5 linked regions of the Homo sapiens genome follow. The protein of the gene in region 5 purifies or fractionates together with the protein of the main gene of each other region. This does not show direct contact. Each region holds a gene or a part of one and is shown on either strand. Other genes may lie near its edges. The genes, in order: CNNM4, FAM234A, CNNM1, PODXL2 and SLC10A2.

Evidence for each region.
Region 1: the proteins of SLC10A2 (region 5) and CNNM4 purify together in Homo sapiens (affinity purification with mass spectrometry; one large-scale study listed by BioGRID and IntAct). This does not show direct contact.
Region 2: the proteins of SLC10A2 (region 5) and FAM234A purify together in Homo sapiens (affinity purification with mass spectrometry; one large-scale study listed by BioGRID and IntAct). This does not show direct contact.
Region 3: the proteins of SLC10A2 (region 5) and CNNM1 purify together in Homo sapiens (affinity purification with mass spectrometry; one large-scale study listed by BioGRID and IntAct). This does not show direct contact.
Region 4: the proteins of SLC10A2 (region 5) and PODXL2 purify together in Homo sapiens (affinity purification with mass spectrometry; one large-scale study listed by BioGRID and IntAct). This does not show direct contact.

What each region holds. Positions count from the first base shown.
Region 1 is NC_000002.12:96,767,295-96,770,966, forward strand, and holds part of CNNM4 (metal transporter CNNM4 precursor), read left to right. Parts: intron 1-3,672. UniProt on the Homo sapiens protein: Probable metal transporter. The interaction with the metal ion chaperone COX11 suggests that it may play a role in sensory neuron functions. May play a role in biomineralization and retinal function.
Region 2 is NC_000016.10:262,246-265,917, reverse strand, and holds part of FAM234A (protein FAM234A), read right to left. Parts: intron 3,495-3,672; coding exon 3,365-3,494; intron 2,657-3,364; coding exon 2,516-2,656; intron 2,219-2,515; coding exon 2,143-2,218; intron 1,903-2,142; coding exon 1,747-1,902; intron 1,305-1,746; coding exon 1,202-1,304; intron 1,108-1,201; coding exon 896-1,107; 3' UTR 1-895.
Region 3 is NC_000010.11:99,363,769-99,367,440, reverse strand, and holds part of CNNM1 (metal transporter CNNM1), read right to left. Parts: intron 3,025-3,672; coding exon 2,925-3,024; intron 2,487-2,924; coding exon 2,439-2,486; intron 1-2,438. UniProt on the Homo sapiens protein: Probable metal transporter.
Region 4 is NC_000003.12:127,635,628-127,639,299, forward strand, and holds part of PODXL2 (podocalyxin-like protein 2 precursor), read left to right. Parts: intron 1-3,617; coding exon 3,618-3,672. UniProt on the Homo sapiens protein: Acts as a ligand for vascular selectins. Mediates rapid rolling of leukocytes over vascular surfaces through high affinity divalent cation-dependent interactions with E-, P- and L-selectins.
Region 5 is NC_000013.11:103,059,783-103,063,454, forward strand, and holds part of SLC10A2 (ileal sodium/bile acid cotransporter), read right to left. Parts: intron 1-3,672. UniProt on the Homo sapiens protein: Plays a critical role in the sodium-dependent reabsorption of bile acids from the lumen of the small intestine. Transports various bile acids, unconjugated or conjugated, such as cholate and taurocholate.

The sequences.
Region 1 (3,672 bases), on a different chromosome or scaffold from region 5:
GTGAGACAAGCCCTCAGGCCTGAGAGTCTCCTGTGATTTGAACCTTGGCCCTTCCGCTTAAACCTCGCCTGGAACTGTTTGCAGTACTGGGTGTTGTGGGTGGGTTTGTCCACCTTGGAATCTCAGAACAAAGCCACCTCCAGCTCCTCCTGCCCCAGTTTGTGTTTTGCCTTCACCACTCTCCCAGACCCTGAAGCTAAGTAATGAAGGAAGAGGGCAGAGCTCTGCACCCCCCTTGCAGCCCACCTTCCAGCTTCTAGCTGTGCCTCACCCTCTGGGACACTCCTTCCCTCCCAGGTACTTAGCTCATCTTTAAACACCTTATCTTTCCCCACCCACCTTATAACCACCTAGACCCTGTATAGACCTGGGTGTAACTCCAGCCAGCCTGGTCACTGACCTGTGAGGTGGCCTTGGACCTGTTACTCCTCCTCTCAGCAAGGTAGTGCAGTATAAATTGGTGGGGAAAAGCTAGAAATATTTTCATTAAAAAAATCCTCCTGGCTGTGGCTCACGCCTGTAATCCTAGCACTTTGGGAGCTCTTTGGGTGGGTCACTTGAGGCTAGGAGTTCGAGACCAGCCTGGCCAACATGGCAAAACCCCATCTTTACTAAAAAAATGCAAAAATTAGCTGGGTATGATGGCACATGCCTATAATCCCAGCTACTGGGGTGGCTGAGGCAGGAGAATCGCTTGAACGGAGGTTGCAGTGAGCTGAGATTGCACCACTGCACTCCAGCCTGGGCGATAGAGCAAGACTCTGTCTCAAAAAACAAAACAAAACGAAACAACAACAACAACAAAACACCCATATTTTCATCTAGGCTGTGTCAGATTTTCCCACTGACTTAATTTTATTCCCGCAACAACTTTATGAAGTTGAGAAAAAACACTGCATGATTTTTGCATTCACTTTTGGTTCCTCTTATCTGACACACCTTAAGTAACTTATCCTCCACACCCCACCCTCCCATCCGCACCTGCTTATTCATCCATTTGTTCAACCAACAGTGACCGTTTTGAAGCCTCTGTGTCAGACACTGTGCAGGCTGTTGGGAATCAGAGATGAATAAAACTGCCCTGTTCACAGAACTCACAGTCTACCAAGGAGAGAGACACGTGAACAACGCCTAGCTGCACAGAGCTCACAGATAGGGTGCCGTGGGGCTGAGGGAGGGCAGGCCTGTGAGATGCTTCTGAAGTGAGAGTAACTAGACTCGTTGATCCTTGTGGAGATCTGGGAGTCAGGGCCCGGAAGTAGTTGTGAAAGTCTGAGGTTTCTAGCTTGGGATTCAGGTTGATTATGTCATTTAACTGCAATCGGGAAAGGGGGACGAAGAGACAGTTTAGTGAGGGCAGAGGGAGGTAAGTGGTGGTCATAATAATGGTGTGACCCGTTGCTGAGCTCCTTCTCCGTGCCCAGCATTGTTTACACTGGAGCTTCTCACACTCGACTGCCTGGACATTTTGTTGAAATGCAGACTTGAACTCAGTGGGTCTGGGTGTGGCCCGAGAGTCTGCATTTCTGACAGGTTCTCAGATGATGCCCATGCTGCTGGCCCTGGACCACACCAGTGTGCAGTAACATCTAGGCAGGCATGCAGGGGAAAATGCCCACGTGAGGCTGAGGAGCAAGGCCAGGACAACGCTAAAAGGTTTAAGAGTCAGCCAAGAGGCCGGGTGCGGTGGCTTACGCCTGTAATCCCAGCACTTTGGGAGGCCGAGGCGGGCGGATCATGAGGTCAGGAGATCGAGACCATCCTGGCTAACACGGTAAAACCCTGTCTCTACTAAAAATACAAAAAATTAGCTGGGTGTGGTGGTGGGCGCCTGTAGTCCCAGCTACTCGGGAGGCTGAGGCAGGAGAATGGTGTGAACCCGGGAGGTGGAGCTTGCAGTGAGCCGAGATCGCGCCACTGCACTCCAGCCTGGGCAACAGAGCGAGACTCCGTCTCAATAAAAAAGGAGTCGGCCAAGAGCAGGCAGAATGGAGAGCTGCTGGGCACAGTGGCTTTGTAATCCCAGCACTTTGGGAGGCTGAGGCAGGTGGATCACCTGAGGTCAGGAGTTCAAGACCAGCCTGACCAACATGGTGAAACCCCGTCTCTACTAAAAATACAAAAATTAGGCGTGGTGGTGGGTGCCTGTAATCCCAGCTACTGCGGAGGCTGAGGCAGGAGAATAGCTTGAATCGGGAGGCGGAGGTTGCAGTGAGCCGAGATCGCGCCATTGCACTCCAGCCTGGGTGACAGAGTGAGACTCTGTCTCAAAAAAAAAAAAAAAAAGAATGTGTGAGAGAGGAAAGGACAGTGCAGGGGGTGTCAGTGTGTAAAAGCCAGGCTGAGGCGACTCCTTGATGGAGACGAAGAGAACCAAGGGGGCACGCTATTCGGGAGCCTCCTTGGAGGGTCAGATGGGGTGAAGACCATGCACAGACTGTGGGATGGGACCTTAGGCTGTGGGGTGCCCAGCGAGAGCAGCCTCGGACAAGTGGTGCCCGAAGGCAGCTTTGCACCGGTTCTCCGTCAGCCCTGCCTGGTAATAGCCTCAATATGGTGATTTGATCTCAAGAAGCTGCCTGGGGGCAGGTGTATCTGAGAGTGACAGGAGCTGGTTAATACTCCGGGTGCAGGCAGAGGTCCCAGCAGGGACAGCTGACAGAGCTGTGGCCAGGCTCCTTCTCACTTTCCCTTTAGTGCAGTGCTGTGGGAAGGGAACATGAGCACGTGGAGGGGCCTGGTGCGTGCCAGCCAGTGGGCAGCTGCACCTCCTTCCTGGCTGGCCCCATGCAGCCTATGGGCGGGTTCCCAAAGAGGAGCCAGCACTGAGAGGACACTCACGTGTCTTCACTTGACAGTTCTCTTCTCAGAGCTCTTGTTTGTGCAATGGAAGGCAATGCTGTGCATCGAGGCCCTGATAGGTTCTTAGTTATTCTGGTGTTTACTTTTCAAAGGTCTCGTATTTTTAACTAGGAAATCCCGCTCCAGTGTTTTTCTGCTCACCTCTGGTCAGGACGGGAAGCACCGAGCAGATGTTTAACCTTGAAAATGGGTGAATACACAGGAGCACAACATCAGGGAATGGCCCTACAGGATCAGCAGGGGGCCCTTGGGAAGGGGAGGCCTGTCTCGTAAGTAAAAGTCTGGGAAGACATTTCAGCGGAATTTGCTAGGGCGGGTAGACATGGCGTTTTCCACTCTGGTACGTGTTGCCCTGGGAGAGCTTGGACAAGACCCGAAGGCTGAGAGGTGAGCCTCACCGTCCTTCGCAGCAGCTTTGGGGGTGTGGCTCAGGCCTCCCGGGCTGCTTCCCCTCCTTTTCTAGACGGACTTGGCGGTGCGGATCCCTGGGTGCCTTCTCTCTGCACCCCTCCCACATGAACCTGGTTGACTGAACAGCAAGGACATCTTTGAGGGGAAGGAAGCCTGGCCCCTCTGAAGGAGTCGCTACTACAGGCCTCCAGTCTCCTTGAGGGCAGGGGCCAGCATGGTTGTCCTGCACTGAGCGCTGGCTCCTGAAAGGCCGCGCAGCCATGGAGAGTGTGTATGGAAAGGCAGCCTGGGCCAGGCCTCTGTCGCTGCCTTGGTGACTGATTTTCGCAGAGCCTCCTGGTTCCTTCTCCCCAGCCCGTGGGGGATGGACAGGCTGTCTCAAAGCCTTCCTGTGGTCTT
Region 2 (3,672 bases), on a different chromosome or scaffold from region 5:
CACGGCGTGGGCGTGTGAGCACCGGAAGGGGAGAGGCAGGCGCTTGCCATGCCTGGGGCACGGGGCCTCTTCAGGGACAGAGCAGCTCCAGTGTCTACTGAGAGGGCACAGACTGACCCAAACACGCATTCCACAGCCAGTTCCTTGGGATATTCACAGCACATGCAGCCAGTAGACAGCTGCAACACCACTAAGGACACCTGTGAGCGGCCACGGGCTCAGCTCCAGAGCAGGCCCCACCCATCCTGCTGGGGGAGACCCTTGCTCCAGGCTTCCTCACAGGACCTGGTCAAAGGAACCAAGTCACACCCCCCATGCTAGAGGATCCCCCTGTAGCTCCGGGAAGGGCTGCGAAGCTGGAGCTGTCTCAGGTTCCCGTTGAGGCCCAGTACCCTGAGTTCCATGACTCCTTGGGGGACAGAGCACAGGAGGGAAAAGGGGAATGGACTTCTACAGGATGGGGTGGGGGACGGCCTGTCCCGGGGACACCCTGGTTCTTTCTACGCGATGGCCGCTCTGGCCTGGGGAGAAGCTGGCAAGGAGAGGGCACCGGGTAAGGATGGGGTGCTGCATGACCCAGCTCTGCCCAAGGTGGCCAGGGAGACCACTATGAAGGCTGCCTGGTGTGAGCGGGACCCTGGTGGGGTGCAGAGTGAGGCCCTGTGTGGGGACTCAGGGAGGATGCTGGGCGGGAGAGAGGCCCAGGGTGTCCCCTCACCCATGCAGGTCCCTGGGTGTGATCATGGAGGACTGGTAAGGCTGCTGCTGCCCAGTGGCGACCATCACCAGGGTCAGGAGTGGGGGAGTCAGTGCAGAGACCCAGGGAAGGGCCCACTTCCCAGGACGTTTAGTGTCAGCAGGCGGAGTCTCTCCACAGGCTCTGGCTGGCGTGCCTCTACGCCTCACTCTGGTACCGCAGCCGGGAGAACCGGTCCCTGATGGCTTGGTCACTGTCTGGCCCACCCTCACCCAGGCGGACCACCCTGCTGCTTGGGACAAGGTCCCGCACCTTGTGCTTGATCACAGAGACCAGGCCGGGTGCCTCTGAGTCTGCCGGGCCTGTCAGAAGGATGTAGGCGGCGTGGCGGCTTGGCTCAAACAGGACGGCTGCAGGGTGGGGGACACAGCTGTCAGGGCGGCTCAGGACCAGCCAGGGCAGACCCCGCGGAACACCCGGGTCCCTGGCCGAGGCCACACTCACCGTCAAAGGCGACAATGTGGGTAGAGACATTGGCCAGCTCCAGCAGCACGCGCGGCAGGGTGGGGTGGAACATGTACAGGCTGTGCCGGGCCTCCCCGGTCTCCTGGAGCGAGAACCAGCAATGGGCCCCACGCCCTTCACTGAGCACTCCCACAGGACACTGCTGTCAGAGTGACCGTGCCTGGAGCTCTATGTCTGCTAGGGGCCCTATCTGGGTCCCCCAAATGCCAGCCCCCAGTTCTGTGGCCACCTCCCAGGTCCTCCCACCCCACCTGGTCCTGACACTGGTCCTTGCCGGCAGCCACTCCCTTCAGGGCATGGCTGTGTGCGCCCCTATCCACCGAAGGCCATCAGCCCCTTCTCGCTGGACCCCTCTAAGGTCACTTTGCCTCAGCTTGCACCACCTCATCCTGACTGTCACTGGACTTCAACTTATGTGAGGTTGCCCAGGCACCGATGAGCTTCTGGGCACTCCACGGTGGAGCTCCAGCCTGGGTCTCTGGCCCCGGCTCCCAGCATGGCTGCTCCGAGGGTGGCTCCCGTACCGTCTCGCTGGTGCTCCCCAGCTCGTGGAGGCCCCAGAAGAAGAAGGCTGAGCGGTGGTCTGCGGTCGGCAGGCTGGCGGACAGTGGACCCCCAGGGAGGCTCGGGAGGGCTAGGCTACACAGGACGGCTCCAGTGCCAAGGTCCAGAAACAGGATCTGGGGAGGGAGGGGACACTGTGGGGGCCAACGTGGGGGCTACCGGGAAAAGCTCGAGGCTTGCACAGGCACACGTGCCCTCAGCCATGCCAGCCCTGGAGGCAGATGCTCTGAGGGAGGCAGAACCTTCTCAGCAGCTCTGACGGCAGCAGCCTCCTGGGCCGCAGCCCCGTCTGCTTTCAGACCAGTCTATCCTCAGCTAAGAACAAAGGTGCCACCTCCGAAGGAAGAACAACGAACCTGTCTGTCGGTGCCAGTTCCGTTTTCAACGGCTACAGCCAAGGTGTCTGGTTTGTAGCGGCCGAAGATGGGTTTTCTGGAACAATATGGAGGAAGCGCTCACGAGGGGTCTCAGTGAGGAGACTGAGATGAAGGAAGCACCCAGGAACACGTCCGCCCCTCAGTCTCCCATGGCCACATCTGGACCAGGGCCCAGGACACGGAGCCGACGTCTGGGGCAAGGGGCAAGTACCAGAGACAGGCAAGAAGCCCGGGCAGCAGCACACGGCCTCCGGCCCCACCCCCAGCGCTGTCTCCTCGCCAGCCAACGGGATGTGCCCGGGATGCCGGGAAGGGGTGCAGCACCTGCGCGGTCCTTGGGGAAACCCTGTACCTCAGGACATGGGCTGCCTTGGGTGTCCAGCGAGGCGTCAGCTCCTGCCCGTCCAGCAGCACGAAGGCCTCTGAGCCCACAAGAAGCACATCTGCACCGGCGTTCCCTGGGACATGCATCAGGTAGCGCACTGCTCCAGAGCTAGACAGGAGAGTGGGAGAAAGGGGCGCCGGGTCCCCGGGGCGGCCTCAGGCACCCAGTGGAGGCTCTGGCACCGCCCGTCTCAGGGTGCTCCTCTTAGGCCCCCATAACCCGTTTCTCAGTTCTACAGCTTGAAAAGAGAAGAGCTGGGCGCGGTGGCTCATGCCTGTAATTCCAGCACTTTGGGAGGCCGAGGCGGGCGGATCACGAGGTCAGAAGTTCGAGACCAGTCTGACCAACATGGAGAAACCCCGTCTCTACTAAAAATGCAAAAATTAGCTGGGCGTGGAGGTGCGCGCCTGTAATCCCAGCTACTCGGGAGGCTGGGGCAGGAGAATCACTTGAACCCGGGAGGCGGAGGTTGCAGTGAACCGAGATCGCACCACTGCACTCCAGCCTGGGGGACAGGGCAAGACTCCGTCTTAAAAAAAAAAAACAACCAAAAAAAAAAAAAACAGAAAAGAGAAGAAAGACCCCCACTTTCCGTGGAGACAGACAGGCACAGCGTCGGGAACCTTTCTTCTCTTTACTCAACTTTTATTTGACCATTTCTCACATCTGAGCCCAGGGTGACCTTGCGGTACCCCGAGCACCTCCCTGCCGGTGGGGCTGCTCTGGGCTCCACACAGATTGTCCGAACGCTGAGGCAGGCGAGCAGAGCCATGGGGTGGGCGCTCTGCATGGAGAAAGGCTGCGGCCCGGACCCACCTGTGGGAAAGCATCCTGCGGGTGGTGGCATTGAGCATGCTCTCCCAGTGCGGGTCACTCTTGAACGGGCCGCCGCTCCCGGTCACCTTCTCGTAGAGACCCTTCACAGAGCAGCCGCAGAGGGAGCTTGCTATTCAAAACACAGAAGGGCCCGAGGTCACCAGGGTCACGCTGTGAACCCGGACCAGGGGCACGCAGTGCCACATGGAGCCAGGCCCCTGGGCTTCCTGACTCCAGCACCTCGAGAGCAGAAGCAGGACCTGAGGAGCCGCAGGGCAGTCATGCTCCACGAGTGAGGCTGGCCAGGG
Region 3 (3,672 bases), on a different chromosome or scaffold from region 5:
GAACCAAGAAGAAGAAGACAGTGTAGATTATGTTCCCTTCACCTCATGCAGGAAAGCCAGAGACTTCTTTGTAGCCTCAAGTTCAACTTTGAAGCATAGGTCATCGTGCCAGTATTCCAGCAAACTCATAATCTCACTCCTCATCCTCAAAGGCTGATTAAGCTAGCTTCAAGCATAGGGGGACGGGGCTGGGCCAAGACCCTACAAGATTTTATTGCCTTTTAGCTTAGACTTAAGCTCTCCCTCAACCTATAGGTTGAGGTTCTTGGCCAGTGAAAGATGCTGGGTGGCTGGACCATGGGCTGAGCATTCACCCGGGATAACTGTGGGGTATGGCTGGCCTTTGCAGTTACTTCACACTTCACTACACTAAGTATGGGTTCGGGGAGGATGGAAAATGTCTTTTTACCCCATTGGCTAATAATATTTCTTTTTCCTTCTGAAGATTTACAGAGATGCTCAGTAACATGGGGAGAGAAAGAGAAAGAGTGCTATGTTTCTTTTCAGTTAACTAGTTTTAAAGGAGAAATCAATGTTGCAACTTTATTTCTATCTCACTGATGCAACTGAAAGCTTTTGAAAGAAAGAACTAGAAACAGGAAGGAAGGAAAGGAAGAAATCAGATAACATCTTCCTTCTACTTAAAACAATTTTTTTTTTGAGATGGAATCTTGCTCTGTAGCCAGGCTGGAGTACGGTGGCATGATCTTGGCTCACTGCAACCTCCACCTCCCAAGTTCAAGTGATTCACCTGCCTCAGCCTCCCTAGTAGCTGGGATCAAAGGCACGTGCTACCATGCCTGGCTAATTTTTGTATTTTTAGTAGAGACAAGGTTTCACCATGTTGGCCAGGATGGTCTCGATCTCCTGACCATGTGATCCACCCGTCCTGGCCTCCCAAAGTGCTGGGATTACAGGTGAGAGCCACCATGCCCGGCCACAGCAATTTCTTTTTTTTTTTTTTTAAGAAAGAAGGTCATATAAATTGGGTGGGCTAGGAAGCCATATGTAGGTCTTTTTTTCTCAGAATTTCCACCTCTTTTAGTCTTCTGGAAGAGATCACAGACATTTCTAGGTAACATATTAGAATCCCAGGAGTAGTCCCTAATGTGATGGATGATGGAGATTTCCTTTAGAGAACTAAGGTTTGCCAAAGTCCTGTAGCCCGTCCCTCACCCATCCAGAGTTCTACTGAACACTAATGCTTCCTTCATCAACCTTGATTGAGATTCATTGTCTTAAGTATAATAATGTACCAGGGTCTTTTCAATTTTACAGATCTCCTCCAACTCAAGTTCTGCCACTCTTCACACTGGGCAGGTACTTCATTTCAACCACTGGCTGGGCTATTACACTGTAACAATTACACTGTAAATTGTTCCACTATTTCCACTTAGAAATTGCATTCCAGAATATGATGGATCTGAAATCTGTATTTTATTGTGCTGTGTGAACTAGCCAGGACACCAGGAAGCATCTTGGCCGGTCACCAACTTACTGGGTGATTTGAAGCAAGTCATTTCCTTAGTTTCACTCATGTTAAAATGGTATCTACCTTGCCATGTTCCAGGGACTATGATATCAAGCTCTGGGACCCTCTGATAATTCCCACCACAAGGCAATATGTAAAATCTTTTTTTATGATGAGAGGAAAGACCCTATTTGGCATTGAAGTGGTCACTGTAAACACTAACAGCTGAAAGCAATGCAAAATTCAGAACTGTGAATCAGAAAGAAATCTAGAGAAATAATTCTTTCTGTATCACACTTTTAATCACAAAAAATGCCATGCCCTTTAAGCACAAGTGCAATAACTACACAGAAAACAGCAAGAAGGCACAGCACAGAAAGGGCAGAGCAAACCAGCCATCAGCCCTGTGCCTGCCCCCCACCAACAGCATGCACAGCCAGCTGGCAGATACCTCTCCACTAGCTGAGAGGTGGAGAACCAAGAAAGAGAGGCAGATAAGCAACGTATTGCACAAAGGTGGAACTTACATCCCCAAATCTTGCAGTCACTTCTTACTGAGGACAAACCCCACAGACACAATAATAGCATATGACAGTGTTTGAGTAAAGGCCATGGGTGAATTGTTATTGCACAGAAGGAAGGGCTGAGCCTCTGCCCAAGCACACAAATCACCTGCCTGCATTCACTGGAAGGTGGCAATAAGCAGTGCCTTCCCTCACAACCCCTGCATCCCCCCAACCATGTGAGCAGAGAAGCAGCAGAAAACATTCCAGACACACAGAACCTAAGCTCCCATGGTCTGTGGGTACCTGGCAGGAAGCAGTGTTCCTGGCAGAACATTACAAAGGGGCTGCCAGCATTTGTCTTAGCCCCAGCCCAGGCTCAAAGTGCTCGGTCCAGGTCCCCAGAGCGGGCTGAGGCAGGACTACGATGGGGAGGACGAGGAAGGGGTTTGAGAGATACATACGAAAGACAGAAGATCCAGCCAGACTTCCAACCTTCCGCACGTCATTATCTAAGGACAGAAGCATGCAGTGGGTTTCAGAGGCAACTCAGAAAACACACTTCTTATGGGAATCTTCCCTCTTCTATCCACCCCCAGCACCAATTAACCCTGTAAAAACCAGGCAATTAAATGGAAGGGTAGGGAACAAGTATAAAAAGCAAAATAAACTTGTCTTTTCATACTGAAATCTACCACCCTAGATCCCTAACACTTGACAATATTACTGCTTTTTACAATTCAATTTTTTGTCACTTTTTTTTTAAGCACTAACTGAATGAAAAGTGATTCATACACCCATTTTGCAGAGGAAGGAACTAAAGCCAAGGAAGTTAAATGGCTTGTCCAGGCTGATTAACAAGAGTCAAAGGGGGAGTCAAGACTTGAACCCCTGTGCTTTTTCTACCATATCCCATTACTTTCCCAATAAACAAATGGAAACTAGAATACCTGAGCAAGCAGTGGTCATGATGGCTGGGACGCCATAGTAAGTAAAGGCTCCATTTTCAAAGCGAAGGCCTTCCTTACCAACCTCCACCTCCACTTTACCCTGGAAAAAAAAAAAAGGAAGTGTACTATGAATGTGTATGAGCACTTCCAGTTCTACTATTGACTCGAATCCTAAGCATTTCTGCTTGGATAACAAGTGGACTAGACCCATGTTCTTATCACAGAGGAATGTTAATTCTCTCCAGATTTACATGTGAGAAAGCACCACCAGCTTTAATAGCTCTTTGCAGTAAATTCAGTGCTTCGTTGTTCATAAAATAGCATCCAGTCATGAATAACCAAGCTGTCCTTGCATACTGTAGTGGCCCTTCCATGATGCAGGCCTAAGCACCAGCTAATCCAGGGCCTCATAAACTGCCCCACTGGTTTAGTCCAAGATTGGACCATTTCTAAGTCAGGTCAAGATAAAATCTAGGCCGAGTGCGGTGGCTCACACCTGTAATCCCAGCACTTTGGGAGGCCAAGGTGGGTGGATCACGAAGTCAGGAGTTTGAGACTAGCCTGGCCAATATGGTGAAACCCCATCTCTACTAAACATACAAAAATTAGCTGGGTGTGGTGGTGCATGCCTGTAGTCCTAGCTACTCAGGAGACTGAGGCAGGAGAATCACTTGAACCAGGGAGGCAGAGGTTGCAGTGAGCTGAGATCGGGCCACTGCACTCCAGCCTGGGTGACAGAGCGAGACTC
Region 4 (3,672 bases), on a different chromosome or scaffold from region 5:
GCATCACCTGGGAACTTGCTAGAAATGCAAATTGTTGGGCCCCGTCACAGACCAGCTGGATTCAGAACTCTAGGGTGGGCTTAACAGTCTCTGTTTTAACAAGCCCTCATGGTGATTCCATGCTGGTTCAAGTTTGAAAGCACTGGATTAAAACGGTAGCCATTTATTTAGCTCATGATTCTGTAGTTTGGCAATTTAGGCTGCAGTCAGCTGGGTGGTTCTGGTCTCAGCTGAACTCCTTCAAGTTTGTCATCAGCTGTTTATCACCTTTGCTGGTCTTGTCTGGCTCTCTCACTTTGGGACTTCAGCTAGGACACTGAGCTGATCTGGCTCTCTTCTGCATGGGCTCCTGTTTTCCTGCAGGCTAGCCTTGAGCAGAATCCTGAGAGAATGGAAGCGTGCAAGGTATCTTGATGCCTAGCCTTGGAAATGGCACATCATCACTTCTGCATTGTCTTGTGTAGCAACTCACAAAGGTAGCTCAGATTCAAGGAGTGGAGAATTAGATTTCATCTCTTGATGGGAGGAGCTACAAAGTCTCATTGCAAAGATGTGTGTTATTAATTGGGAGTCATTGGATAACCCCTCTCAGGAAGAACCTTAAGAAGGTACTGTTTTGGGGTAGGACAGGGCACTCTGTTTCTTTCCCATCTACCTAGTAGGGGATAGATACTGCTTTCTTCTATAATATTCGGGCTAGGAAAAAATCCAAGAGTAGCTTAGGGTCCCCCCGTGATGTGAAGGGGAATTAGAGTGGAAGAGGTCATGGGAAAGTCTTGAGCTAGAGAGAGTACAAGTCCTTAATTCATCCTCTCCCAGGAACAAAGGGGAACTTCAAGGGGAGTGGACCCCAAATTGATTGTCTTGGCTTTCTCTGCCTTTTAAATACCTTTGGCTCAAAGAAACCACAAAATATGAGATGGCTGTTTCTCTCTTTGAGTCAGGGATTCAGACACAGGCTCTGGGAACATGACTTCAGCTTCGTGGAGCCAGGCCCTGCCTGGAAGCAGAATCTTTGTCCGTGGACATGGTGCCTAGGACAGCAGAAGACATTCCGGATGGGGTGTGATAGCTTCCTGGTTTGGACTTGGCAGAAGGCAATCCCCTGTGAGCAGTCCTCAGGAGCACTGGCAACACAGCAGTGCCATTGGCTCCCACCTGCCCAGGGTCACAGCTTGCCCACCCTTTAGGTATTTTTTTATTTTTATTTTTTTGAGACAGAGTCTCACTCTGTCGCCCAGGCTGGAGTGCAATGGCACCATCTTGGTTCACTGCAATCTCTGCCTCCCGGGTTCAAGCAATTCTCCTGCCTTAGCCTACCAAGTAGCTGGAGACTACATGCGTGTGCCACCATGCCCAGCTAGTTTTTGTGTTTTAGGAGAGACTAGTTTTGCCACATTGGCCAGGCCTGTCTCGACCTCTTGACCTCAAGTGATCCGCCCGCCTCGGCCTCCCAAAGTGCTGGGATTTACAGGTGTGAGCCACCACACCCAGCCCCATCCTCTAGTTATGATGATACTTTCTAAAGCTGAGAGTTGGGCCTGTGAATTATCTTATTGAGAGACAGAGCTTCACGGGATCTTAGAGGTTGGCACAGACGTTTACTAGCCCTGGTCAGATGCTAAGGCTCTGATGCCTCCTTAGCCCCGGCGTTGGCTTTGAGGCCATGTAGAATCACTCTGATATTCTTATTCACATCAACCTTTTGTTTTAATGTATTTGAAGATACCATGGTCTCTTTTAAATATTTTTTTCCCCGGGCCATGAACTTCACAGGTCTCTGTTTTTTATATAGGATAATAACACAATATTTGTAGAATAGTTTGGTTTGTAAAGCTCTTTGTAGAGCAGCTTTCACACATGGCTCACCAATTACCTCATTTGGTGCCCCTCACACTGGAGGCATGGTAGGAATTGGTGTCCTTATTACACAGAGGAGGAGAGCAAGGCTGGTGGTGGTGAAGTCACTCAGCCAGAGAAGCCAGAGTGTAACCTATTTCCTGGTACCAGGCTTTCTCTCCTGTTATATAGAACATCTTCCTGTCTCTGACCTCAGGGCGTCTCTCTTACCCTGGAGTCTCTACTTCCCATCCCCCATCCACACAACCCAGAATACACCCCTGTGGCTGGATGTGGCATTATTGGCTGTGAGTTGTCTGGCTGCTGCACAGTGTGCACAGACTCCCTCATACGGAGACTCACAGGACAGTCTGAAATGCTCATTTTTTTCAGTGGCCAGTCACAGTATTGGCACGTATCAAGCTTAGGGCCTGCTCAGCAAAGCACATGGCACCAATAATATTAGCCCTATTTTTATTATAAGCATCACTAAAAATTGCCATGTACTGTAGTCAAGTCAGGTCACAGTACACATCTGGTGTAGAGCAAGAGGAAGACTGTGAAATTCCCTCTTCCCTAGATCCTTAAGTGTTAGTCTTGGAAAAGAATTCAGAGGTCATTTCATTTAGCTTCCTTGTCTATCTGGTGAGGAGACTGAGACCCAGAGGTCTTGAGCAGCTTTCCAGGAGCCTCACAGCAAGTTAGTAATTTGTGTGGTTAGGTCATTAAGTTAGAGGTTAAGTTGTGAAACTGGCAAATAGGGCTATATTCCTGTCCTTAAAGAATGAGAGTGAAAGAAGAGGAAAAAGGCCTCCTTTAATTTGTTTTCCTGTCCATTTATTTGCTTGTTTTGGTAAATTAGGAGAGAGAGAGAATCCAAGATTCTAAACAAATATGTCAAATTACCAGCACTGGGTTGAGTTTGAACTGTGACCTCACGTGGTTTTTTAAAAGACTACGTTCAGAGGCTGGGCTCAGTGGCGCACGCCTGTAATGCCAGCACTTTGGGAGGCCTAGGAGGGCAGATCACTTGAGGTCACGAGTTCAAAACCAGCCTGACCAACATGGCGAAACCCTGTCTGTACTAAAAATACAAAAATTAGCCAGGCGTGGTGGTGGGCACCTGTAATGCCAGCTACTTGGGGGGCTGAGGCAGGAGAATCACTTGAACCTGGGAGGCGGAGATTGCAGTGAGCCAAGATTGCACCACTGTACTCCAGCCTGGGCGACAGAGCAAGACTCCATCTCAAAAAAAATAAAAAATAAAAAAACTAAAGACTATGTTCAGGATACTGTATTGCTGAAATACAAATGATATTCATAATGCAGTTTTGGAGAAATTTCAGCCAAGGATGGAAGCCTGGGGAACACTGTGTTCGTCCAATCATACTGCTAGGTCCTTAAAAGCATGGGCCCTGTCTTCACTTCAGTTTGTAGCTCCAACACCCAGTACAATTGCCAACAGAGAGAGGGTACTCAGGAGGCATTTTCTGAGTGACCACATGCGCAGTGGAACACTGACTCAGTGATTCCTCTCTCTCCCCTGCCTGTCTCCATCTGTCTCCCCTTGCCCCTGCCATAGGGAAGTCTAAGCAATTTGGCCTTTTTGAAATGAAAATAGTGTCTCAGAATCCCCGCAAAGCCTCTGGGTTTTCAGGAGTGTCCACTGAAGTCCCCCCTTCCCCAGGACCTTTGTCATTTGAGACATGCTCTAACCTGGCACCAGTCTTGTGTCTTCTCTAGCCTCCCCTGACTGTCTGGCTTTTATGTCTGCACAGGAGCGTTCCTGGGTGCCTGTGTGGCTGGGTCTGATGAGCCTGGCCCAGAGGGCCT
Region 5 (3,672 bases):
GAATAGAATGCATGTCCGAGGGAGGAGGCCTCGCTGTGTTGCCATAAAGCAGAAAAATTACTGCCCAAGTGACCCTAGCTTGGGACAAGAAGCGGAAGCTGACTTAAAAATCAAAAGAAAGCATGCAAGCGGCAGGGTAGACATAAATTCTTAGCACTGAGTAAGTTATTGGCAATTTGGCAAATGTGTGTTCAGAAGAACTAGTGTCTGGTATCATCCCTGCTCAGAGTGTTTGCATTTTAATAAGAGGGTCTGGCTGAGTAGGCTATCTACATGGAGACATTAATGCCAAATGATGCTATCTCTAGTACTAGGACAGTGGGTCAAAGAAAGATTTTTGGGGAGTGAGTCTTCCGGGTCCTCTTCAAAGGGATCTGTACACAGCGTACATTCTCTGCCTTTAAAGCCTGAGCTCTAAAGCCACACACTGTCTGGGCTGAAAGCAGGCGGTGCCACTTAGTGTGTTAATTTGAGTAATTTAGTTGACTTCTCTTTACCAGTTTCCTTATCTAAAATGGCTGTAAGGATAGAATGAGCCAATGGTGTCCGGCACTTAGACCAATGCAAAGCACTCTATTAAGAGCTGGTTGCTACTACCATTTTTTTTTTTTTTTTTTTTTTAAATAGGGTCTCTCTCTGTCACCCAGGCCAGAGTACAGGGTCACCAACTTGGCTCACTGAAGCCTGGGCTCAAGTGATCTTTGCACCTCAGCCTCCCGAGTAGCTGGGAATACAGGCATGAGCCACCATGCCAGGCTAATTTTTAAATTTTTTGTAGAGATGGGGTTTCACCATGTTGTCCAGGCTGGTCTCAAACTCCTGGGCTCAGGTGATCCGCTCGCCTAGGCCTTCCAAAGTGCTGGGATTACAGGCGGGAGCCACCGCACCCTGCATCTCTCTGCTGTGATCATTTATGTTACCATGTTTTTGTATCTTGTGTTCCACCAAATAGAATCGGGAAACTTAGAGAAATGAGAAATTTCTCTGAAAGGCCCTTCTCTCAACAGGTCGTCATTGAGGTTGTCAAGAGTAGTAATTTCTTAAGGGTATTATGGGTGTACTTGAAAGAAAATGTTAAATATTTATATTACCTGCCCCCCAAAACAACAACAACAACAACACACTATACTAAGAAAGGAGCTAACAATGAGAAATTTTGTTTCAAGGCACAGTTAAATTTGCACAGTTTGGCAAAATACAGGGTGGGACAAAGTTCATCAGAGAGCTTAACTTCTCTAATAATATATTTATTTTTAACCAGAATGACCTCATTTAAAATAGGCTTAAATAATTTAGATAAAAATACTTGTTTTAGTAGAGCTAAAATATTACAACAGTAACAAATAATGTGGATGTATTTAAAACTTTAAGCAGTTCAATCTATTCTGGTTATAGGTAAATTTAGGCATGAAATAGATGCTAAGGCAGAATTGTACACCAGACAAACAAGTTAATTTGTTATTAATAGTACTTTGTCCTACTTATAATGAAAGTACTGGAGTTTGAAGGTAATTTTTTTCTCTGTTCCTTCCTCTCTTCTTTCAGTGTTCTCTTTTTTTTTATTTTATTTTAAAAAATATATTAGAATGGATTTAAAGTTGTCCCTATAATAAAATCACTTTTTTTTCTGTGCATCCAATATTTTTTTCTAGAGTGTGGTGGGAATCTGGTGGGGAAGTGAGGAGGATTTATTAACTGGGTTCCAGTGAAGAGAAGTCTGAGAATTTTTGTTTTAAAATGTGAGAAAATGTTTAAGAAGGAAGTCTTTTTCTGTCTTTGTTTTTTTTTCAAAGATCCTTGCAAAACCTTTAATTCTGAATATTGCTAAGACAATCTATGACGTTGTATCATAATTTTGAGTTTGGTGAGAGCAGTTTCTTAAGGATCGTGATGAGGGACAAAAGAGGGTTTGGAGAAGGAAAGGTTTAGACTTGTGAGCAGCACTGACGAAGAGACCTTGCAGATGAACAGACGAATAGGTAGCTGGAAGTTGATGCTATTTGAATGAATATAAGAACAAAATCAAACCACTCAAAATGAGATTTAAAACAATTCACAGATAACGAATTTTAAGAAATAATATAGAAGCCTAAATTAGCAAAAGAAAATATTATCTTACACGAAAAAATCTGAAGTTCTATAAAAGGCATGTATATAAAAAATACATACACTGCCTTGAATTTATATTAGACTGACAGAAAAGAGTCAAGTATAAGAAAAATAAAAAAAAAATCTTGGTCTTAATTTTGACTTCAGCTCTATTAACTGCCAGGGAGATTTTCTTTTGTGTGTATGGAAATAAAAGAAAGAATAAATGTAAATTTAGTGAATGTTGAGGAATTCAGTGAAATCAGTGTTAAGCAATGTAAAAGATTGTAATCATATTAGAAGTAAAATACCAAGTTTGAAGGCTCTAACGTAGCGTATATAGGCAGTGCTAGAAACTGGAGAAGTGAAAAGTGATAGAAGCAGTGTAGAGAAAGCTTATGAGCCTGCAAAGTGGTAGTGGGTAGACCTGGGTGATTCCAATTCTGACTCAGGCATACATTGACTCAATGACCTTGGTCAAGGTTATGAATCTTAACTTCATTATCTGCCAAATGCAGAAAATAATAGTACTAACTTTAGAGGATTCTTGGGAGGATGAAATATACCAACTTATTTTGAGTACTTAGCACTGTGCATGGCATATACTAGTGTTTAATAAATATTAGCTAGTAAAATCAGTGCTACTGGAGAGAAACAATGTTTGGTTACTTTTAGGGAGAATAAAGGAAAAAGCCGAATGGTTTTGGGTTAGGTCTCCCAGAGTAGAGAAGAGAAGGACATTTATGGGGTTGACATAGGAAGGATTGATTGCTGTGAATTTGTGGTAAGCTACAGGGTGAGATTTCTTGAATATCTAAAATATCAATGAATGCTGCACTGGAAGCTGAAAAATCTAACAGCATTTGCCCAAAGAACAAAGGATGTGGTAGGAAAGTCTGTAAAATAATAAAAAGGAATGTAGAAAGTAGGTGGCAGGGAAGGAACTGGGGGCAACTGGGAGAAGGATGCATAAGAATGGATTCCCCAAAGAGGAAGCCAAAGAAAGGAAATGAGAAGTCCTTGCATGGTGTCGCTGAGGCCATTAAGAAGGATGAAGACACCGGATATTTGCCTGTGTCTGGGGAGAGAGCAGACAAAAAGGAGATAGGATGTTTCTGTGTCCTCTCAACTATGGGTTTTGGCCACAAGCAGATTCACCTGAAAAGTCACCATCTCTTCTCCCTGATGCTTTTTGTGCATGTGATGTCCATGGCACAGCTGCAACTTAGGTGAAAATATATGTGCACCAATCAGATTCACAAACTCCAGGCTGGGAGTGGTCAGAGAAGGAGCTGAAATAGTACTTGCTGGATTCCAATGATCAAGGACTATTGTCTATTTTTTTTTTGTTTTTCAAAGTCACTAGAGATTGCAAAATGCGGTGGCTTTCCAGGTTCATAAGAGATGACAGAGTGAGAGAGAAATGTTTTGGTTTCTTCTCCCAAGAACCATAACCAAGAGAGTTAAAACCAGGTGGAATGGTTTTGCTGGCATTGTGTGGCATTAGCTCAATTAGTGTAGCTGCCTGTTAACATAAACAGTCATGTCTTCATGCCATTGCTGGAGTTCAAGTGGAGATGGAGA